Linked DNA regions of Homo sapiens: region 1 is linked to region 2. The links come from fine-mapping of genetic effects on gene expression. A gene starts in region 2. The other region holds a variant in brackets. All regions are shown on one strand. Distances are from middle to middle. Region 1 overlaps CALCRL (calcitonin receptor like receptor). Region 2 holds the start of CALCRL (calcitonin receptor like receptor).

Region 1 (11,359 bases), 98 kb before region 2:
CTTTAGGAAATAAAATGACAAATTAGAATTTAGAAAATTAAAATATGACTTTCACAAGTAATCACAGTAAAATGCAGATCTACATTTTAAAAGCTAGAAATTTCCCCAAATTTATTTTTTTGACAGCAAAGAAGTTTGCTTTAAAAAAAGTGTCAGATTTACTTTGCTTTATGAGTATGATACAAAGATATTAAGTAGCATTTAGCTTTTGAGAAATCTAACATTTAAAACTATTCTAAAAATATATGGGTACAAAACTAACAGTGATTAATCATGAATGACTGCTACGCCTCAAGACTCTACAACAGACAAACCCTGGCTATAAAATAAATCTGATCTAGAATTAATATTATAAAAGCACAACAAAAATACTTGAAAATTACATGTTTATTTTAATATAATCTCTGATCATTCAACATTTTTTACTGTCACTTCTACTGTCAAGATGGTTGAGAGTTGACAGTTTGTCTAGAAGAAGGCTGATATATGTCAACATGGTCAGCAAAGGATTTAAATATGGGTCTTTGAATAATAAATAGCTAATAATTGAGTTTATTAAAATGAATTTTTGTATAATTTAGGCAGTTGAAGGTCTAGAACAGCCTGCGTTCCTTTCTATGGCAGCTTGCTATGAAATTCATGTTTCAAACAAAACAATACTTTTTCATGCATAGATAAATTATAAATGTACTGACCAGACCATTCTATATGTTAATTCTTACGAATTTAGATAATTTGTCTTAGCAATTTGAAATAAGTTCTGAACTCACCATCTATTGACATATTGACAGCTTAAGAAACAACTTATGATGAGTAATTTGTTTCATCCATTTTAATCAGATTGACACACTTAAAAAACAGATACCCATGACTTTTCCCAAAATTGACTTTTACTAATTGAAGTCATTCTTGTTCTTTAGAGATTTCAGCGGAAAATAACATTAGAGAAACTGAATCCCATGCAAATTTCACTTTAATTCATTAGCAAGGTTTTCTTCTATCTTTATTTAATAAAGTCTGACAATAATTCAGTAAGATCTGACAATAATTTTTTCTCAATGATATATTCAAGTATTTCCCTAATTTGTATTATATACAGTAGCTCTATTAAAATATTAAAGCATTGTATATGGTATATATAGTATCCTTCTAGTTTTTTATATTTCTTGAATAGCCTGGGACATTTCCAAAGCTATATATCTTCACATAGTAAAAGTCAGTAAAGTAATATTTTAATGGGGTAAAATCTATAAAAGTAGCAGATTGGTATTTATCACAGTAGTTGTTTAAAATTTCTGGATTAGAATGTGAGTTCATTGTCAAAATGAAAAAAGAAATATGTCAAACACACCTATTATTAAGGTATGAGTTATCAAAACAAATATATTCAATAAAATAGTGACCTTGTGTTTTTAAAATAAATATATCTTATGATAGATGTTTCTGTTCTCTTAGTTCTCAAACAGACTTCTGATGCTGGCATCTGGTTGTCTTTAAAATATTTACCAAATATAGCATTCCAGACTCTATTTTATTTAAAAAATCAGCCCAGATACAGTATCAGATATTAACATACACACATTGTTGCATTATATATTTGCTTTAAAAATTACATAGGTTGTATGTATTTGATTTGAGACTATAAAATAAAATAATGGAGTATTTACAAGCTCATTTTTCACAATTTCTTTTTACAAAATTCCAAGAAAATAAGAAATCCTTCATTGATTTTCTTTATATAAAATGATTGCTAATTTGTTTATACAGTAGAAATGGAAGGGACAAAATTTATATTTACAGCTAGGAATTCCCTCCCACTGTTTGGTAAGACAGGAAGAGGTTGACAAGGTGTTTTGTAGCATCAACTAAGATGTTTTCCTAATGATATAGAAGTAGGATTGCATATTATACATCCTGTTCATCCAGTTTCCACAATGGATATGCCACAAGATATAACTGATGTGTCAGCAAATGAGTAGATCATAACAATTGTACTCAGTTGCTTTTCATAGAGAAAAGAAAGCCAGCAGGGATAATTCACTTCTGGTATTGTCCATTTGAGAGGGTAGTTACAAAAAGGACTACGGCACTCTGGGCAAAAAAAAAGTCAACTGCCCCAATCAAGATGGGATAAAGAGTTTTAAAACTAAAAGCTAATTTTCCCTTCATGTTTATAGACCTTAGCTAGGTCTCTTGGGGCAATAAGGGTAGAATCATGCCCAACATGTATGTTTAGTTTTACAGCCATTTGTTTGTGAATTCATGCAATGGTGTGCTGGAACTGGCTTACACCAGCTCAGAAAAGTTGATTGTGCTTTTCTCCAATTCCACACTTGGTGATGTCAGGTTAGTAGCGTCACATCAGGCATAGTGGGAGTATTTACTGACAAACATTACAAACCAGGATTTCTTTTTTCCCACATAGAGCTGGATGTTACACTCTTATCAACACACTACTAATTTCATGTGAAGGCTCTTCTTTATGACATTCAAAAAGTCATTTAATATTGAAGTCTTCTGGCTACAGAGTCATGGGTCCAAGTCCTTGAGTTAGGAGAAGCACAAAACAGTGAGACAACCATCCTTCTATTTTCAATTATATAAATTTTCTGGTTTTAAGAGAACATTTTCAATATCATGGATGCTTTTTCCATTTAAGTGTTCACTAGGACAGTCATGACTATAACCTGGACCATCACTGATTGTTGACACTGTGTAAGACGCACTACGAAGAGCTTCTGAGTTGGAAAAGCTGTTTCCAAATTGGATTTTGTATTGATTCCAGTTTCTTCTCAGAATTGCTTGAACCTATCAATCAAAAGGAAAACAGAAAGAACAAGAACAACCCATTAATTGAAATGAAGACACTGTTTTTGAAGCACAATTAAATAGGTCTTGGAGAAGAGCTTTTTTAAAAAAAGTTATGTTAATCAGTGAATAATATAGCTTCATTTTCTTAATTTAAAAAATTAAGTGTACCATCTTCACATTAGGAAATGTATTACAATTACATTGTACTTTACATTCCATTAATATTTTTCATGGCATGTTTTGTCTTCAAAGCTTTTATAATTCATATGTATTTATTGTTGCCAAACAAATAGGTAATCTGGACCCCCATTTACAAGATTTCATGTGCAACATTGAGTTTTATATTAATGTCTTTATTAATAGAATGAGAAGACAATTCGTGACAGGATAAGCGAAAGATACACAAAAGAAAAGAAGTTAGGATACGAAGAATACAAATCAGCAGCAGCAGCAGCAGGGCAGTAGCAGCAACCTTTGTTTCTGAGTGACTCCCATATGCCAGAAATTGTGCTACATTCTAAAAAAGGGAGCATGATATTTGTCTTCATGGAGCTTACTACATAGAGGAAAGAAAAGTGTTGAACAAATAATTATAAATCTGGTGAATATTGTGAAAAATAAATTTAGGAATGTAACCACTCCATTTTTATATATTTGAATCCTCTTCTGCTGAATAAATTTGCAGTTTAATGACTTCCTTCCCCTCTGTTTGAAGCTAGAGATCAGGGGTAGGTGGGTCCTATACAGTAAAATATTGGTCATAATGGAATGTAAGGCACAAGAGTGAATTTTCTTCATTGTCAGTCAATGGGCACAAATGAGAACATTTAAATACATCTCTAGCTCAAGTACGTTGAGGACTTTTCCATGTCTGATGAGTGAGCACACTGGCTTGGAGCAGCCTGCTTTTAGGTTATGAATGTGTTAGCCAAATCCTTGTGACCCGATCTATATCTGCCCAGAGTGGGTTTGCTTTGAATGGTCTTCCCCAAGCTCTCTATTGCTCTTTGGCTCTTTCAGTGCTTTTCCAAAGGGAATCTGAGCATCTCACAGCAATTTTCTGGTAATTCATTTTCTACGTACTGAGGTATAATTGTTTAACTTTCTACTACTTATATAGAATTCCTCAACTTTCTCTTCACTATATCCATGTATACAAATCAATATTAAATCTTTAAAAAGGGCTTACTTCTCTCTTGTTATTTCCTAGTCTAATGGATTAAAACACACACACACACACATACACACACACACAAAACCTCAATTCCTCCAATTACAAACATTCTATAGAAAATAGGTGTTCCAGGATGTCTGCAGCTTTACAGGATACTTCAGAGTTCCTGTTAAAGTATCTTATAGTCTGTCACTTAAAATAAACTCAAAGTTTTATTGTCTCATTTCATGTAGGAAAAAAGAAGGAGCAAATATAAAGCCAACAATGTGTTTAGGTAAAATTAAATGAGGTATTAAAATTATCAGTTAATTTCACTCTACTATATAGTTCAAAAATTATATAATTAAAATGAAATAACTTCGTATTGAAAGTTACATTATGATGAAGTTCAGTAACTTCAGCCCTTTCAAGCTCAATTTAAAAAATATATGGTAACCATATCTGAAGAAAACAATTTATATTCATGTAAATATGCTTTGAAAATAAAAGCATTTATAAGGCAACAAATTTATTTATCTTGCAAAAATTAAACTTTCCTCTCAATTTAGTAATATAATTCTAAATCCTCCGTATAAAATATCTAAATTCAGATAATTTAAAAATAACATCTGCATATGTAACAACCTCAAGATCATGAGCAAACTACAAATTGAATGGCTTCAGATTGTGAATTTTAAATACATATTCAGAGATTCAAAATAAAAATGACCATTGACCAATTATCTAGATACATCTGATGAGAAATATTTTTGATCCTTATTTTTTGTTTCATAAACTTCTCCTAATTTTGTTACTAAATGCTGAATTGGTTGAGTATGTAATCAATATAGTTTCTGGTTGAGGGGAAGTGGCATATAGCTTTGTATAAAAAATTCTATATAAAGTATGAGAAAAAGCTGAGAGGAAGTAATATCTTAGCTGTGAGTCTAGTACTTATAGTCTTAAAAAGGAAAGCTTAAATTCAATTTGGAAGGAAAATGGCTATTGAAATATATGACTGTTTGCTCTTAAAATATCTACTTTGATTAAGGTCATCACTCTATTTCTTCCTTGCAACTAAATCATCAGAAAAACCATAGAAAGCCAATTTCATGAACTGTGAGGTCTTACTATAGTTAAAAATAAACCTAATTAAAGATCCACAGGCCTTGTAGACTTGTTTGTTTATGTTATTTGCTCTAAGGATGTTACATTTTTCTTCTGCTTCCTCTAATACAATATCACACCTGTTAAATACGACATTAAAGCAGCTACTCTTAATAAACTTTTAATGAGAAAAAATCAGTAGGAGCAAATTTCCATTGTAAGGGAAGATAGCTGGGTGTTATTAAAGATATGAATGTTTTTATTGTTTTATGCATGACCATGTATAAGTAGTAAGGCAAATGTTTAGAATGTAACATTACAACTTTATATACCCATTAACACCCAATAAGGAACTAACTTTATACTCCTTAATGGGAATCAATTTAAAATATTTACGAAACTTTTATAAAAATTCTACGTAGTTCTCATGAAAGAATTTGGGTTTAATTGTCTGTCCTCAACAAAACTTTTTGCTCATCTTATGGAATATCTACCCTCAGGTGTTGTTAAATATAACCTTCTGATGACTAGAGTCCCTAGTTTATGATCACAGTGCACATTTTTGTCTGAGGGCACTAGGGATAAAATGAAAGTAATCCAAGCACTTGTCAAGCCACATTTATTTAACTAGTGAGAAATGCTAATAGCAAGACGTTAGCTAAAAAGTGCATAAAAGGTGGGAAAGAAAAAAACACAAATATTAAGCTAAAGGCAGGCATTTGACCTAATGTGGAAAACAAGAAGGAAACTAAGCCTGAGCAAATGATTTTAAGAAGTACATGACATAGTTGGAACAAAATGAATTTGGCAGTTGTTTCTTCATGTTATGAGAGTGGGAAAAAGTAAGAGGCATTGAGACAAAAAGGGAGGGATCACAGTATTTCTTAAGAAGAGAAATGAATCATACTGAAACAGGGATTGTATCTCCAGAGATGAAGAAAAGGAACAGATATTAGAAATGTTGTGAGGAACTGAAAGATTTGG[G/C]AACAACCTAGCTCAAACATTGTGTATTATTGTAATTTTCCAATGTCAAAATTTTCTCAATTTTAGGACATGGCAGAAGATCAAGGTTCTGTGTCCCTTTTGTTTACACAGATCGAGTGTAACAGGAGTGTTAGGCATTACTTTAGATATTCCCTGGGCACTCTTTCTAAATAAAAGAGCCAATTTGGGATTTTGATCCAAAATGATTAATGTTCCTGTTGGCACATGTGTTTTTGAAAATAAGTGATTTGACAAATCAAATAATAAGTATACTGAGAATCTCATGAAGTGGGGCATGGTGCTAAAAACTTTATCTTTCTTAGCTTGTATTTATTTTTCTGAGACCTGTGTAGAGAACTTGCTTTAATTTCCCTTTAAGAAAGATAGACACAGGCTCCTGAAATTTGCCAGCATTTGCCAAAATATCACAGCCAAGATGAAAAGTAGCATCTTTGGTGATTAAATGCATTGCTGTGTTTATTCTACACTGCCTCCTGTTACAAAATATTTTACTAGTGAGTGTGTTTTGAATATTTAAAAATTAGTTCATGGAATTAAAATCTGTTTCTGTAGATACAGAGGTCTACCTTTCCTATTTCATGCATGTTCTTTAGCATGTTGTCCATATCACTCTCATCTATATTTAATTATTACATCCTATACAAGTAGCATTTAGGGTTGTCTAATTCAGTGTATATAACATTAAATTTATAGAGGTATATAATAAAATCTATTTGAATTTTACTATCAAACAAATGATTTATCTATTTTTTGTAACTGCATTCTGTCTATGCTTCTCTGATTTCAGAAAAAGTTGCTCTTGTCTTCTGTATAGCAGAAGAATTATGGAAGTACCACTTAAATGTATGAAATATAGTCTACAATGTGTGGCAACTCTACACCTCATTACAAATAAATAAATATAGATAAATAATAATAATATAAATAAATACGTGTTGAACTTGAGATATATTTTAATTAAAAACTAAACATTGAGTTTTATTATATGTCAAGATGAGGAAGTAAAAATATTACTTAAGCAAGCGCAAATAACATGTTATAGTTTTTCATGATGTGTGCATGATTTCCAATGTTCATTTGTTTTATAGGAATGGTTGTCATAGGTTATACCAACTGGTCCCATGTGTTCCCCATCTGAAGCTTTATGATAAGCTTCACATTATCAAGTGTCTGTGTCTCACTCAGCTGCTGTCTGGATTTCTAAACTTTGTTCAATTTTGCCAAAATCCTCCTACAGGTTAAATTGTGTCGAGCAGATTAAAAACATATAAAGAGCTAAGTCAATAGAGCTCAGATTACTGAGCTATAACACATTTGTATGCATAAGAAATATGTTGGCTGGGCGCGGTGGCTCACGCCTGTAATCCCAGCACTTTGGGAGGCCGAGGCGGGCGGATCACAAGGTCAGGAGATCGAGACCATCTTGGCTAACACGGTGAAACCCCGTCTCTACTAAAAATACAAAAAATTAGCCGGGCGCGGTGGCGGGCGCCTGTAGTCCCAGCTACTCGGGAGGCTGAGGCAGGAGAATGGCGTGAACCTGGGAGGCGGAGCTTGCAGTGAGCCGAGATTGCGCCACTGCAATCCGGCCTGGGCTAAACAGCGGGACTCCGTCTCAAAAAAAAAAAAAAAAGAAATATGTTACCAGCTTTCAAAATGCCTGAAACTTCCCAAGTAGGAAACGCATGGATAAAAATCTAGAAGTACTGAAGAGTACATGGTCATGTTATGAATTAGAGCATTCTCTTCTAAATTTCCTAACCCATTGAATTTCTTCCCTGTATAACCAAGAGTTTAATTTTTAAAATCCTTTCGTATTTGCCATAAAGTTGTTTCCATAGGCTACATTGTAAGACAGGCAAAAAAGAGAAAGAGGGAAAATGAGATGATCCTATTTCTTATTTCCTATTAGAGTGTATGTTCTATGAGATTTGGGATTGCCTGGCACTGTATCTGGGGAAAAGCTCAGACTTAATGGGACTCAAAGGTATCTCAAAAGATTAGATGAATAGCATTTGAAATATTTTTAAGTGAGGTTGACTTTTCCCTGGCTTTGAACTCCAATATGACCTGAGCATTTGAGAAGGAGAGTTAAACCTATGGTAAGAGATTCTATGGTTCTTTCCCTGATGGAAACAGAATTTAACATGGTTGTTCCTGGGGAATTTATAATTTTATCTCATTTAAATACATGGATAGATAGACAGATAGCAAATATAAAATAATAGAAGGAATAAAATCAATTATCATACCTCTCCATTAAAGAAGCAGAAAATGGTAGAGACCAAAAGACCCTGTAAAAGAAAAATAGAATGATCTGAATCCAAATGGAAAGATACATGTATTTGTAATCAAATAGCTGTACAAGTAGTCAGGAGTAAACCAAAGCTATATGTATATTTAATTCCAAACTTCTCAAGCTGCCTTCTTATCAAGAATGCCATACCTGGAAGTGCATAAGGATGTGCATGATGTAGTCATATACCTCCTCTGCAATCTTTCCTTCAGGTCGCCATGGAATCAGCACAAATTCAATGCCAAGCAATGGCACCAAGATAAGAGTAGCTCTCACAGCTTTCATGTACAGATTGGATTCCGCTTGGTGTGTAACTTTTAACTTGGTGATGAGAACGCGTACAATATTTAACAAGAAAAAAAGATTCACCTAAAAACGAAATTAAATGGCATCTGAAAATCATTTCATATTTAATATTAAGAAGCATTATTCAAGTATCTCCAATTTTATAAATCTTAAAATATTTTTAATGTACAAGAATATTTTTAAAGGGTATTATTGCCTAAGGCATTAATTTATATTTCTGGAATTGTGATTTATCAATTTAACAAGTACATCAATTTTAATAAACAAGTTTTAAAAAAGTAAAATTAAATTATGGTATAATTACTGTGGAACATATTCAGTTGAAGAATATTTCAGTTTTTCTCAGCTCATTTTCACGTGCAATTAAAAAAATCTGTGGTCTAAAAACTAAAGATTTTGAACATTTTCATATCAAAGAAAATAATTGTTTATGGAAAAATGCTAATTTTTAAAGCATCCCCTCTTTATCATGTCCATATGACATACTTTCTAAATGTATATTATACCATAATAACCATTTTCATCTTTCAAACCAAAAACTTTCCTGTTTCTTCTAGTAACAATAATCTTTACAACACCTCTCCAAAGTATCACTGTAATCCTCTTTTACTTATGAGGGAACTTTGAACCAGCTGATATTCAACCCCAGTCATTCTAGAGCTAAAATAATTTGACATTCTATAAGACTTCCTGTTAATTACTGTCTGCAATGACATAATATTCACTATTTTTGTGCCTCAACAACTTTCTCGAAGAGACAGTAGTTTCTTTGGATGGGAGACATAAACCTTTGACACTCTAATGTGACTCAGCAAACAGGGTCCTACTGAAACATATTTATTTCTCTTTCTCTCGCATAATACAAGTTTATCTTTCTCTTATTTTCACCCAAGTTAGAGTTTATCTCTTTCTTATTTTCACCCAGTCAATATCTTTTACTTTGGTCCATTTTCTCTATGCCCATTCCTTATGCCTTCCATAGAATCATGAATATTAATTCCAGAAGAGCTCCATAGGGGCTAATTGCTATTCTCTTTTCTTTTTCCTCACCCTTAGTTCTGGCATCTGCCCTTTGTTTAATAATCTTAAATTTTCAATCTATGCACCAAATATAATTTATATCCACACAGTTTAAAAATTGCAAAAAATAGTAGTTTCCCATTTATTATAGAAAAGAATTAACAGAGAGCCTGCATTTGCTAAATGGACACATGTGTCATAAAAATAACTGGGCACAAAAATATTCTACCACTATTTTTAGAAAATTTAATAGAACATATGCTTCAAAAATATACAGCTCACTAAAATCCTAATGGAAACACATCTATGAAAAGCAATGTTTGCAGACACAGAAATACGATAAAGGCAAAAGCAGAATAAGCCATTTCAACAGGTGTGAGAATGAAATGTGACAAATCAACATGTCAGCTGTTATTCCACTCATCCTAATATATTCCCTTCTTAAGCATCCATTGCTCTTTAAAAAAAGATAATAATGCTCTTTTATCTGCTTAATATCAAATATTTTATAATCTTAATACATTAAATCATAAACTATAAAAAGACAGTAGAAACATTGCAATTTAGATGATCCCAATTATATGAAAATTTTTAAATGCAAAGTGCTTCTCCACATGGGAAGTCTGATTTAAAATGTGAAACTAGAAACTAGAGTTGACAATAGAGTTTATTCTATTAGCTATTTTATAAATAATTGTCTTAGAATGAATTGGATGCTATTTTTCCACACAACATAGTTTTGAGAATTATAATCCCTTCATCTTACTTTATTTTCTGTAAATATTTCCATTTACTATAAGCAAAAATAAAAGAAGAATTTTAAATTTTAGAAGAACTATGTCTGAATTTCACCCACCCTTGAGCAAAACTAGTTCAGTAGAAAAGAAGAAACCTTTAACTGACATACTCATAAAGTTTACATAGCTAGTAGGCCCATCAGGCTATTTTGATATCACAGTACCACGCTTGGGTCATGACAGGAACTGGGGTAAATCTATACAGTGGCTGTAGGACAGTTTCTGGAAGTCATTCCCAGACAATCACTTAACTATGCACTGAAGTCACCTAAATATCTGTCACTGAACCCAAATTAAATGTATCATCTCTCAACTTCCCCTCAACAGGATCTCAAAAATGCTGTAGTCACTCCAGTACCACCCTGCTCACATGGAAATGTGATGGAGGAAGTCTGAGTGGAATGACTTGTGATTAAAATATCTTATTTATAAAAATTGTGCAAAAACATATGATAACCATGAGAACAATTACTAGGGCTCTTCTGAGGAGCTTGGAATTGGCCAGGACCAAGAAGGAGCTCTGGAGCTTAAACAAGGACAGAATGATTTATCCGGACAGAAAAATAGGTTCCTAATCTTGTTTTAGGCCAACAAGATGGGAAAGTTTTAGGCAAATAATGTGGATTTTCGCTTCTTTTCTTACTGACCAGCTTGATGGGCTATATTCCTGTATTTCATCCTTACTCTTCTTCCTTAAAGTTTACATGAACAGATGTTTCCAAGGATAGTGTAGATGACGTTACATTTTGCATTTGCTAGGTGCTTTCACTTCCTGAACCTTACTGATTTAGAAGTCTGAATCATGTACCCCTCTGTGCAGCCAGATCTTTTGTAATAAAATATTGTCTTGCATTTGTTCTGGAA
Region 2 (11,359 bases):
GGGCCTATGGTTTGGAAAAAAGTGAACGTTAGACAGGCTAAGTGAGAAAACTTAGTGGAAGGAGAGGGATACCAAAAGACAGATGGAAAATTACCAACTGCAGATTGTACTTACTGTATAGTTTTTCCTAACGCCCTGCAACTCATGCTGTCTGTCTGCTGGGAAAACTCTTGGCCATTTGTTTCTGATGTCCATGTCTGTCTTTTGAATTCTGTTCCTTACTCCTTGATCTATAAAAGTATCTGAGGTGGCTTAAAAACATTATATATATATATATATATATATATATATATATATACATACACACACATATACATATACATACATACACACACACATACATACACACACATATATACGCACACATATATGTGTGTATATATGTATACATATACGTATATATATATTTTACCTTATTTTATAAGAGTAACTGTCACGTGAATTACCTGCAACATGGGTGTTTAAACTGAGAGTTGAAGAACTCTTAACATAGCTAACAAAAAGGAGATCCTATGAAACTCATGCAACTGTAAGCAAAATGAGAATCCCTTTGAATGTATTTTTTTTTAATTTATGGAAAAAAAGGTTTTGGTTTCATTACATTCTCAATGTGGGTCTTAATTTATAAAATATTCAATGATAAATTCTTAAAATGAATTATGTTAAGCCAAAACCTAAATTTTTTTTGCCATCCTATTGCACAGGCACTCTTTCTTTGTATTTTTGAAATATAATAAATAAGAAAATATAAGTGTCTTCCATTAGGTGGCAGTAATAAGTTCCTATAATAAGAACTTTAAAAAAAATGGTCAAAAACAACTTGGAATCCTAAAAGCTGAATTTATTGGATCCTTCTTAATGTTCTCATTTTGAGATTGTGGAGCTGCTATAGTAATCAAAACTAAAATTTTCCGACAGATGTCTACATTTATCTCTACTGTAGTATAGTCACACAAGTAGCAAACAAATTTGTGTAAATAAATTTACTTTTATTATCTTGTGTTAGAAGAGATTCAGTTTGGATTTGGTGAATCATATCACTATTCAACTTTGCACAACTTCAGTAATGAGAGGTCTAATAATAGATAATACACAATAGTATAATGAAATATTTAGGATGTAGATTCATAATATATGTAGGATAAAACCAGAGTTTTGTCAACGAGGATTGTGCAACTTTGGGTTTCACTGAGTTTCACATGTAAAGAAACGCAATAATTTTTGTTTAATATACCTTTTTAAATTGTTAATATGCAGGTATTTTAAAGTGCTCAAGTTCTATGGAGATAGTAATTATCAATATCAATTTTATTAGGTTCTGGCATGTATTGTATAATGGCAAAAGGATGGTCACTGTAACAACTGTAATTATAAATCACACTTGTTCACTCTTCCTGTCTTACAGATAGATTGCATTCTGTTTATCCGTATGGGTGTTGATTGTTTGGAATAAAATTTTGCATAGAAACAAATTATGTCCTCAGTCTCATTCACAACAGACTTAAGGTGAACATGAAAATTTATTGAATATGTACTAAATGCCAAGTGCTAAAAAATTTCCACGTGTTAATTCATGGATTACTTACAAAACCTTATAAAGCAATATGATTATCACTTCCACTTTATGGATGAGAAAGGGGAACTAATAAGTGGTAAATTTTGGGTTCTTATGTGGATGATCTAAATCCAAAGCGCATCACAGTGTACTTCTATAAATACCATATACCTAAATTTCTAAAATAAATGCATATTTTTTCTTAATTTATAAAGTACATTGGTATATTTGTAGAAAAGACAGAAACAAATACATCATTAAAAGTAAAATTTTAAAGACATATGCACATTGACTAATAAAACAATAAACATGTTACTCTAATATTGTTTCCATTACTAAGTACAAAATAAAAATCACAGTTTTGTATTGATGACATTCTTTTCCCATGGTTTTAACTCTCTTTGTCTATTATAATGTTATTTATTGCTCTCTGATACTTACCAAAGTTTCTATTTTTCCTTCAAATTATCCTTGGAAGAAAGGCAAAATTGAGGTGCATATGCAAAATATCTGTGTAATCATTGGTCTCAGTTTAATTAGTGAATGCGGGTTCAAATTAACACTCATTTGTAAAATTTATGAATTTGGTAGTTGGATACAAGAAAAATTTATCTTCATTTTGGTTAATAAAACCAAACCTGTGTGCTCACGAATATGCTATTGATCCTCCATGTGACTGCACTGTAAGGAGATGGGCACTTATAAACCATCTAGTTGCTATGTAAGTAAATCATTGCAATTTAACATACCAAATGATATGCTCAAAATTCACCATAATTTCATGAGAAACATAAATGAGCTTAGGTTAGCCTAAGCCTGAATAGAGAAATAACTACAGTTTTATACAAAAGTTTATGTCATATTAACACTTTTTAATTCAAAAAGATATGTTCCATGTTAAGGGAAATAAGATTTGTCTGAAAATTGGGCTCCATCCAGCAGTGTTAATAAAATATAAAACTATAGCCCCAATACCATAGGGGTTATTTATGTATTCATTTTGGCTTATGCTAGATTGAACTGGGTTGGGATTTTTGTCTTTTTAATTTTTAGTAATGGAAAAGGTGTATAACACATTTAATTTAAACCATGAAAACATTAAAAAATAAAACTTGCTTAACATTTCAAAAGTAAATACACTATTTGGGCCATTTTTGCAAACAATAATATTTTGGTGTATTAGTTTTGAATAATACTGTCTCTTAAGTAAACAAACTAATTGAAGAAAAAAATGGAAGAAATGTGTTTTAGGAAAATATTTGCAACTTATTACCTGATAATAATTCTAGTAACCTAGGAAACATAGACCCTAACTCAGTTCACAGGCAGTGATACTATTTTATATTTTTGTAAGAAGAAGTAAGACCTTATTATGTCCTTAAAAATTGAATACATTTCTTCTCTTTTTTGTAATATAGCTTATTATAATTAAATTAATTTGATTTTAAGATTATTCAAATAAGGAAAAATGCAGAGATTAATTGACCTAATCTAATTTACATGGTCCATGTGAATATATGGGAAAAGGATAGATCCATCTGGTTAGAATGTAGACTTGTATTTCTGGTAAGTTTTTATTTTCCACCTATTTGCATCATAATATTTTTGTATATTAAACGAGAAGATGTCTTGAAATAATTTGTAATCCAGTATGGTACATGTACTTTGTCAGAAAAATAGAACATACCTGAGAAATTATGAATGTTTATAGTTTACCCATGGATTTGAAAACCAGATACAGATAAATGTTTTAAATAGCTGTGTACCATTTGTCTATCTTAAGCGTATTCTCCAATATTCTGATTAAGTCAAAACTAAGATACGTTACACACTTGACTCTCATAAGAGCGTCTTTCATTAACACCCTTGCAATGATAGCGCTTGTGTTTATGGTTTAATAGCTTCTCTGAATGCCAAGCATAAGATACGCAATAAAGCAAAAGATTTTAAATACTATTTCTTGAACATATTTGTATTGTGAAAAGTCGATACTGTAATCATTATATCTCCAAAACCAGAATTATTTGATAAAGCTGTATTAAAAGTCATATATAGAGTATGAAATAAATTTTGTTTAGTGAATAAGTTTTTGATCCTTTAAAGATTATTATATTTTTTCTATAAAGATCTAGAACAATCTTTTAAAATTAAGTTACTATCAAACTTTTGCCATGTAGATAAAATTGGTAGCAAAATATTTTTACAATGTTTCCAAATATGATCTAGTTAGAAATATATAATGATGCTATTAACTGAAATTCAGTTAGTGTTTATGTGTTTATCAAATACTTTGTCCACATTAATCTGTAAAGCAAACAAGGTAATCATTTTACCTTTATATTATTTTCAATTTTTTATGAAATTTTATTTCTGTTATGCATGAAAAAATAGTATAATATGTGCAGGTGAACATAAATATTCTTACAAATATGCTAAGTATTGTCTTCATTTAAAATTCATTACATGTTCGGAGTCACCAGTGAGAAAACCATATGAATCTTGCCCATTCATTTAAAATAATTTTTAAAATTACAGACCCAGTATTATTTTAAACAATGTTTTTGTTATTCCAATTTTTCAAAGTGAATGAACAGTTTCATATATTATAAAAATCTACATATTTTAACTTTTAGTATAATGCTTTGGTATGTAAGATAGAAAAAAAATCTTGTAACAATAATCAAAAACATTATCTCTTTAAGAAATAGAATATTTCAGGTAAAACATATTTCAGCTCACATTATTCACATACTATTTCAATTCTATGTTTCATTTTACATATTTAGCATTGACTGTAGGCTCAATGCATTGATTTTATGATGCTACAAGGAAACATCTTCTAGCAAAGTAAATTCATTTCTTTATGGCTAAAAGCATGCATTGATATTCTGATATTTTCTTATCATTAAAGAAAGCACATTTTGAATACAATAATATGAATTTTTATTTCAAACTTCCAGTTATGTCCTCAAATATTTCCTTTGGCTAATGACCTTCAATGTTCATCGCCTAGTGTTTTTCAAAAGTATTTTTGGAAAACAAAGATTATAAACCATACTGTTAGTAAACTCATAAAAATTTAATCAAATTATACAAGAAAATTATGGGTTTGGGACTAGCAATTAAACAAAAATTAAGGAAGTTTGGAGAGTTTCTCATTATAAAATATGATCATAATATAATACCTCCTAAGAAAATAATCTGAATTAAAAATAATGTTGTTTTAATTTTTGTTACTAACCCACGTCATTGGGTTAGTAAATGTGTTGTTTCCACTTTCTCCCCCATTTATATAATGGCTAAAGTCACATTCTAAAAACACTTTTCCCATTTCTACACATGTGTCAGGGAACTCAGTACAACTGAAGATTGAAAAGAGAGAGAAATCAGCCATGATACTCTTAAAGAATCACAAATCTAAGAATTAATTTAAATTTTCATTATATTGAGGAATTTGTGGAAAAATTGAGTTGTAAATTACTGAGGAGTTACTCAGGATGTTTGTAGTCTATTATTAATGTGCCAGATATAAGTGATTAAGTACAGGATGCTTCCAATGCAGGACATCTTGGAAAGTATAATTGCATTTAGGTAAGAAAATATATAACTTAAAAATCATATCTATCAACATCATTTAAAATTTGACATCAAACTTTCTCCAGCAACAAATTTGTGATATATCTACACAAACAATTTATTAAGCAGACATTAGTTTCTTAAATTGTTCAGGACAGTCTGTACTATCGGAATGAGCATTAACAGATGTTTTATCCAACATTTCAGTAAGTTCCATCCTGGAAATTCTTTTTTAATAAATACTTTAATTTCTTTGTTTAATCGTCTAATATACTTCTTTGGGAAAGCTGTCACGTTTCTTTATCCACAGATATCGTGGTATCACACCCCCCTCCAAAAGCTTGCAGAGGGGAACCAGTCAAGTTGAAGTATTCTCTTAAAGATTTCAAAATTAAGAATTGTTTTAAAAATCTACATTTCCTAAACTCTAGGTTTTTTTTTTTCTTTGTAGCCGACACCATGATCCAAATAAAGAGCAAACAGTTCAGGGTTAGCAGAAGAGAGATTTAAACACATCTGGCAACAATGAACACAAAAATTAGTTCAGTAGTTACAGATATATGTGTAAATAAAGGTGAAAGGCAAATAAAAGCAAATGTAATAAATACAAAGTGATTACTTTTCAAAACTCTGCATTATGATCAACCACAGAGTAAGTGAGACTCCGAGACCCATTAAGTAGTTATTCTTTCACCTCTTTCTTACAGCTGATAACATGGAAAGTTTAAAGACCCTTCCGGGGGGAGAAATGTTTTCCAGTTGTCAAGATTCAAGCTTAGCTAATATTAGAGCTAATTTTAAAAGACATTGTTCTGTGATTAAGGTATTTGTTCAGAAATATGTCTTTTAATCCATTTAGATTTTTAATACTTGCTAAATTTATTTTCTAGAATACCATGGTAAACAATATTATCTAGTAGTATTAGATTTTGTATTCATGTTGGGGTAGTAGGCTGTATTTTCTCTAGCATGTGAAATAAGTGAGACTATGTTTCAACATTATTTCAGTGCTATCTACTAAATTCTATAATAGAAACATTGCCAAACTATATGAGAATACTACTTAGAATAAATATATTTATTTTGAATGTGCACTTACCCAGTCCAGCTCTTAAGGAAATTCTTTGTGAAATATTCTCAGGATGGAACTTTACTTTCTGAGATTCCGCAGAAGAGATTTACCCACAAGCAAGGTGGGAAAGAGTGAAAGCTTTGCAATGTGATCCTGCAATTAGGATGAGATTCAGTTAGCAGAGCTTGATGGTCCTAAAGCAGGAGGTGACACTCTCTGCTGGAGAGAGAGAGGTTGTTCTGAGTAGATTGTAAGTGTTGTCAGATTGTAAGTGATCAGCAGCAGAAGGGAAACATCAGAGCTTCCTGTTACATCACTCTGACCCCGCCTGCAGTTAGTGTTAGGTTACTTTCTTTCTCAAATAGCATACCCCAGGAAAGCAGCACTCCTTTCTTATTGTGAGACAAGAGCAAGAAGCAGCCTGAACAGAGAGAGATCATAGGCTGTGTGAATACATTGTTACCAGTAAAAAGCTGGCTGGCTTTCACCTTGACTGAGTTCTGTTAGAACTTGCCAAACAAGCTACTTGTGATTTGAAGGAAATCTGAATATAGTATTCTGCTCAAAGAATCAAAGGAGTTAGGCGTGTGTGTGTGTGTGTGTGTGTGTGTGTGTGTGTGTGTGTTGAATTATAGCTTACAAAGTATCCAGGAAAAAAAATCTAACAAATCTGTGTTCATAGCACAACACAGAAAAAAAAATTAACTGTATTCATCATAACTGGTTTTGTGATTTGGCTCTTCTTAATTTGGAGCTCTGCTAATTGGGTGCTGTTCCTCCATCAGTTCCTAAGTGCAGTTCCTAATCAGTTAATTAGATCAAGAAACTTTATCCTGCAGTTTTTAAATCTTTTATTTTTTCCTTTACCTTCTTCATAAGAACATGAGTGTATGTGTTATAAATTCAGGTTGTGTATGTGTGTGTATAGAGTGTTTCTTTTATAATATATAAGTATATATATTTGACAAAATAGCCTTTTGAATAATTCATAATTTTAAAATTATTGCACACATTTAAAAATATTTGGTATAATTATGTTATTTATAATATAAAATAATTTATACCACAATATTTGTAAGTCAATATAATCTTAAAGAAAATATAGATGTTGTAAACATAATATTATAAAATAATATAAATACAAAGGATACTTTATTTCTTAGACAAAATTTCATCTCAAAGCATAGTTTTTCCTGAATATGTTTAATACATCATTGGATATGATCAGGGGAAAATGTAAATTTAAAATGCTTTTATCATTTTTATAATTTGGTAAATGTTCGATATGAAGCAATAATTATAATCCCTATAACCTAAACAGCACTAAAAGTCACTTAATTTATCAGGGCATAAATTTTCTCATCTATAAACTAGAAGAGATAGATTTTATGTCTAAGGCTTTGAATCGACAAATTTCATAACATTTTGAAATAGATAAGATACGGTGAGGATCATTCAACTCTTAGTAAATTGTTAGTGCAATTCCAGGATAAAATGAGGTGCCATACACCTTGTAGGCAGACAAAGGAGGTAAAGGCAAAATAAATTCAGGAATATCATGTTTTTAAAGCAGGGTGCTCATGTTGACATTTTTATTGTCTGAATTAGTGGAAGAAAATGTTTATACAATCTTTGATTTTAAGACCAGTGAGATCAATATTGATTACAAAATACAGACATATAAAAAATAGATATACTTTCATCTCTATAATTATGGTTAATAGAAAAGACTTGTAAGAAACTGAGTTACACTGGTGAACCGGTTCTGATACTGTCTGGTGTGATCTTGACAAAGCTTTTTAGGCTTCATGTTCCCATCTTGAAATTCAGAGAAAAACAAATACTAGATTTAATATGAAAGTAATAATGGGTCATGTCTTCTCATCTTCCATGCTAAGTGTAATATATGAATCCTATAAAGAGATTAATATATAGTTTTTGAATTTAATTAAATCATGGAAAACTAAAACTTTTCCCAATATGTTTATAAAAGCATTGATATTTTCGTCTTTCCAAAGATTCATTTTTCTTTCTTTCCTTCCTTCCTTCCTTCCTTCTTTCTTTCTTGATGGAGTTTTTGCTCTTGTTGCACAGGCTGGAGTGCAATGACGCAATCTCAGCTCACTGCAACCTCCACCTCCCGGGTTCAAGCAATTCTCCTGCCTCAACCTCCCAAGTAGCTGGGATTACAGGCGCCCGCCACCACACCCAGCTAACATTTTGTATTTTTTTGTAGAGACAGGGTTTCACTATGTTGGCCAGACTGGTCTGAAACTCCTGACCTAAGGTGACCCGCCCACCTTGGTCTCCCAAAGTGCTGGGATTACAGACATGAGCCCCTGCGCCTGGTGAGATTCATTGATTTCATTTGCCCAATACTAGTAAGGTCTACTGAAGGAAAAAAATTCATGTTTTGAGCTCATGTCATAAGACCCTTAATCCAATGCTCTTTCTCTTCTACTCTCTATCAAGTGCTATACTTTATGGGGTGTCTAGTAGAAGTTGTATCATTTATATTTAAGTTGACGTACACATGGGCCCATGGCTGTAGTCCATGAAGACTCCTTGATAAATTTTATTAATATCATCTTTAATTCTTATTTAGACATAACAGGAAAATTGCATCCTAGTAATCCTCAAGAGCTGCCATTTTATAAACTTCAGAAAAAATAAATGGTACAAGGACTTCCAGGAAGGCATTCAGGGTATTCTAAGTTATGTAGGAGCAAGTGATAAGATAGATCATAAAAACTTCTCTAATACCTACTGAAACATGAAGGCAAATGTTTGGAAAACTGTAGCAGAGCTAAATGAAAACATTTCAATAATCAATGAAGCAATTTTGAGCCAACGTGGCATTATATGGATTTATATATTATAATCTTTCTTCAGAAGACATTAAAGCCACTTGCAATAATTTAATTAGTAGTGACCAAATTTGTATTTTGAGCTAGGTAATGTGCTAACTGTGTTTTAGTGAGATAAGTAAAAATAGAATGTTCCCTGCTATCTAGTCCTTTAATGAACAGATTGACTAGCACATGAGAAGTCAAGGGCCAAATTCTGTGAAATTAGCAACTGATGCTGCTAACATAGAATCTAGAGGTAATGATGCAGAGCACTGCAATAAGGTTTTCTGTAGAAGTGAGGAGTGGTGTATAAGTGTAGAAATATATACATGTAATGATGGACAGTCACACATTTTCATTTTAGCATCCTACATGCAGGATTTGTGCTTTTATTTGTGCTCACACATAAGGCTCACAAGCGACCTTTTCTTCCAATAGGGGATACTAGTTACTATGTCAAATGCAAGTTGACTCAAAATTAGGAGTAGGCTAACTCCAAGTTTCTGGGCTACTGTTTATATTGAATATGTTAGTTAAACCAGACCAAAATGTGGTTTGACAAATTTAATTTTCTACTGACCAAACTGACCACTTATTTTGAATTTGTATGGATACTGCCTTGGAGCATAATTCTTGCCACAAGAACAAACAAAATAAAGCAGAACACTTTTACAGGAAATATATTAAGGACAGACTTTCCCTAGTGAGAGTGCAAGAACAAGTCAAAAGAAAGACTTTTAAAATAATTATTCTGAAGTTTTAAAAGTTATTATTTTATGTTAATAATTCTTCTGTGTTCTTAATTGTCTGAAAGCAATTACTTATACTTGGTGATAATTTATGCAGTCAGCAATATTATATATAACTTGCCTTATGATAAATGCACCAATAATTTGAGGAGAAACACATAAACTTTACATCAGAAGCTTATATGTTTAAAAGCTTTACATTAAAAAACTACTTCTAGCAAGGAAATAAGTTGACCCAACCTTTTATTATTTTACCTAGCAATTGCTGTTAGCACTTTTCAAGTTGCTTTTCAAAACAAAAATAAATTGCATTTAGTAAAAGAATCTGGGTACAATGTCTGGGACATGAGAGTGAATATGCTATTATCTATTACTAAAACCAAAGGGCCGTTTTTCACTTTAATTGGGCACATAGCTATCATTTTAAAGAAGATTACAATATTATTTTAAAAATAGTTACTATGAATAAGAATTTGGAAGGTGCAGAAAACTATGTTTGAAATGAACAGTATATATATCAGGTCAGATATACAGAAATGTATACCAGGTTAATATACAGATAAATAAAACTATTTTATAGCCTATATGTAGAGTTTCTTTCAGTATTTAATAATGTATTTTCTCAAGAAAGCCAAGTAACATAAAAAATAATTGGCCAAACATTTGCCTATTTTAAAAATTCTTATATCCTGATGGATTTAGATCTTCCTGCGAACTTAGTATTTTCTTACAGATATTCATGAGTGTTGGAGGGGTGGCTATTGCTAGAATAAAGTGCTAGTACTGGCTAGTGAGCTATGTCATGGACTAATTCAAATGGATTTTTAAATCCAACAAAATTATAAATGCTTACTTTAAATGGGAGTACACAATGAACTTTCTGAGGGGAAATACCTTCAATAGAGTGATCATATGTCCTAGTTTTCTGGGGCAGTCCCAATTCATAATTTCAGGCTCAAAAATGCTCTGGTTTGAAGAAAAAAATATTATTCAGTATATGGTGAACTTAGCCATACTTATCAATAGAGCAATGACAAGTAGCACATAAATACTAAGAGTGTGTGAGTAATTTATTTGGGAAACCCAAATCTTCTTTCCAGAAGAGTTTAAAATAGTTCTTACTATTTCTAGGATGGTTTTAGTTAGCATCAAAAAAGATGCCCTTTTTAATTCTGGATATGCATTTAATGTGGATTTATTCTGAAATGCCTCTTATTTGCTAAATATCAATCTTGATTGTGAAAATAAAAGGTTTATTTATATTTGTATTTAGGCATTTCGACTTAAGTAGTATTTGATTAAATGACCAATCCCTATATTTTACATAAATAATTTAATCATTAAGTTCTAAAGATGCCAAATAGTATTCATGTCTTTCCAGTTATAACGAACTATTTTCTTCAGCTATCATCATATTTATATAACTTGTAAAAACATTAGCAACTTATATTTTTATTTTCTTTAAAAGCTTATTCATATTTAATGTTAGTCAATAACATACAGTGAGACTTTAAACATTAATGACTATGGAACTGTATGTAATGCATATATTGAAATG

Evidence for each region. PIP is the estimated chance that this variant, and not a neighbour inherited with it, causes the effect.
Region 1: its variant is fine-mapped to the expression of CALCRL in whole blood (TOPMed, PIP above 0.99).

The regions. Positions count from the first base shown.
Region 1 is chr2:187,343,592-187,354,950 of GRCh38, forward strand. CALCRL (calcitonin receptor like receptor) reads right to left here. Exons shown (of 15, transcript NM_005795.6): 13 at 8,523-8,741; 14 at 8,329-8,370; 15 at 1-2,808. The coding sequence ends at 2,593. All of the region lies in intron 2 of CALCRL-AS1 (CALCRL and TFPI antisense RNA 1), which reads left to right. Among named protein-coding and RNA genes, the nearest start is that of CALCRL, 99 kb to the right of the region's middle. The variant G/C (reference allele first, on the strand shown) is at 6,056.
Region 2 is chr2:187,441,809-187,453,167 of GRCh38, forward strand. It overlaps CALCRL (calcitonin receptor like receptor), which reads right to left and starts at 6,444. Exons shown (of 15, transcript NM_005795.6): 1 at 6,231-6,444. The region is part of intron 2 of CALCRL-AS1 (CALCRL and TFPI antisense RNA 1); the gene reads left to right.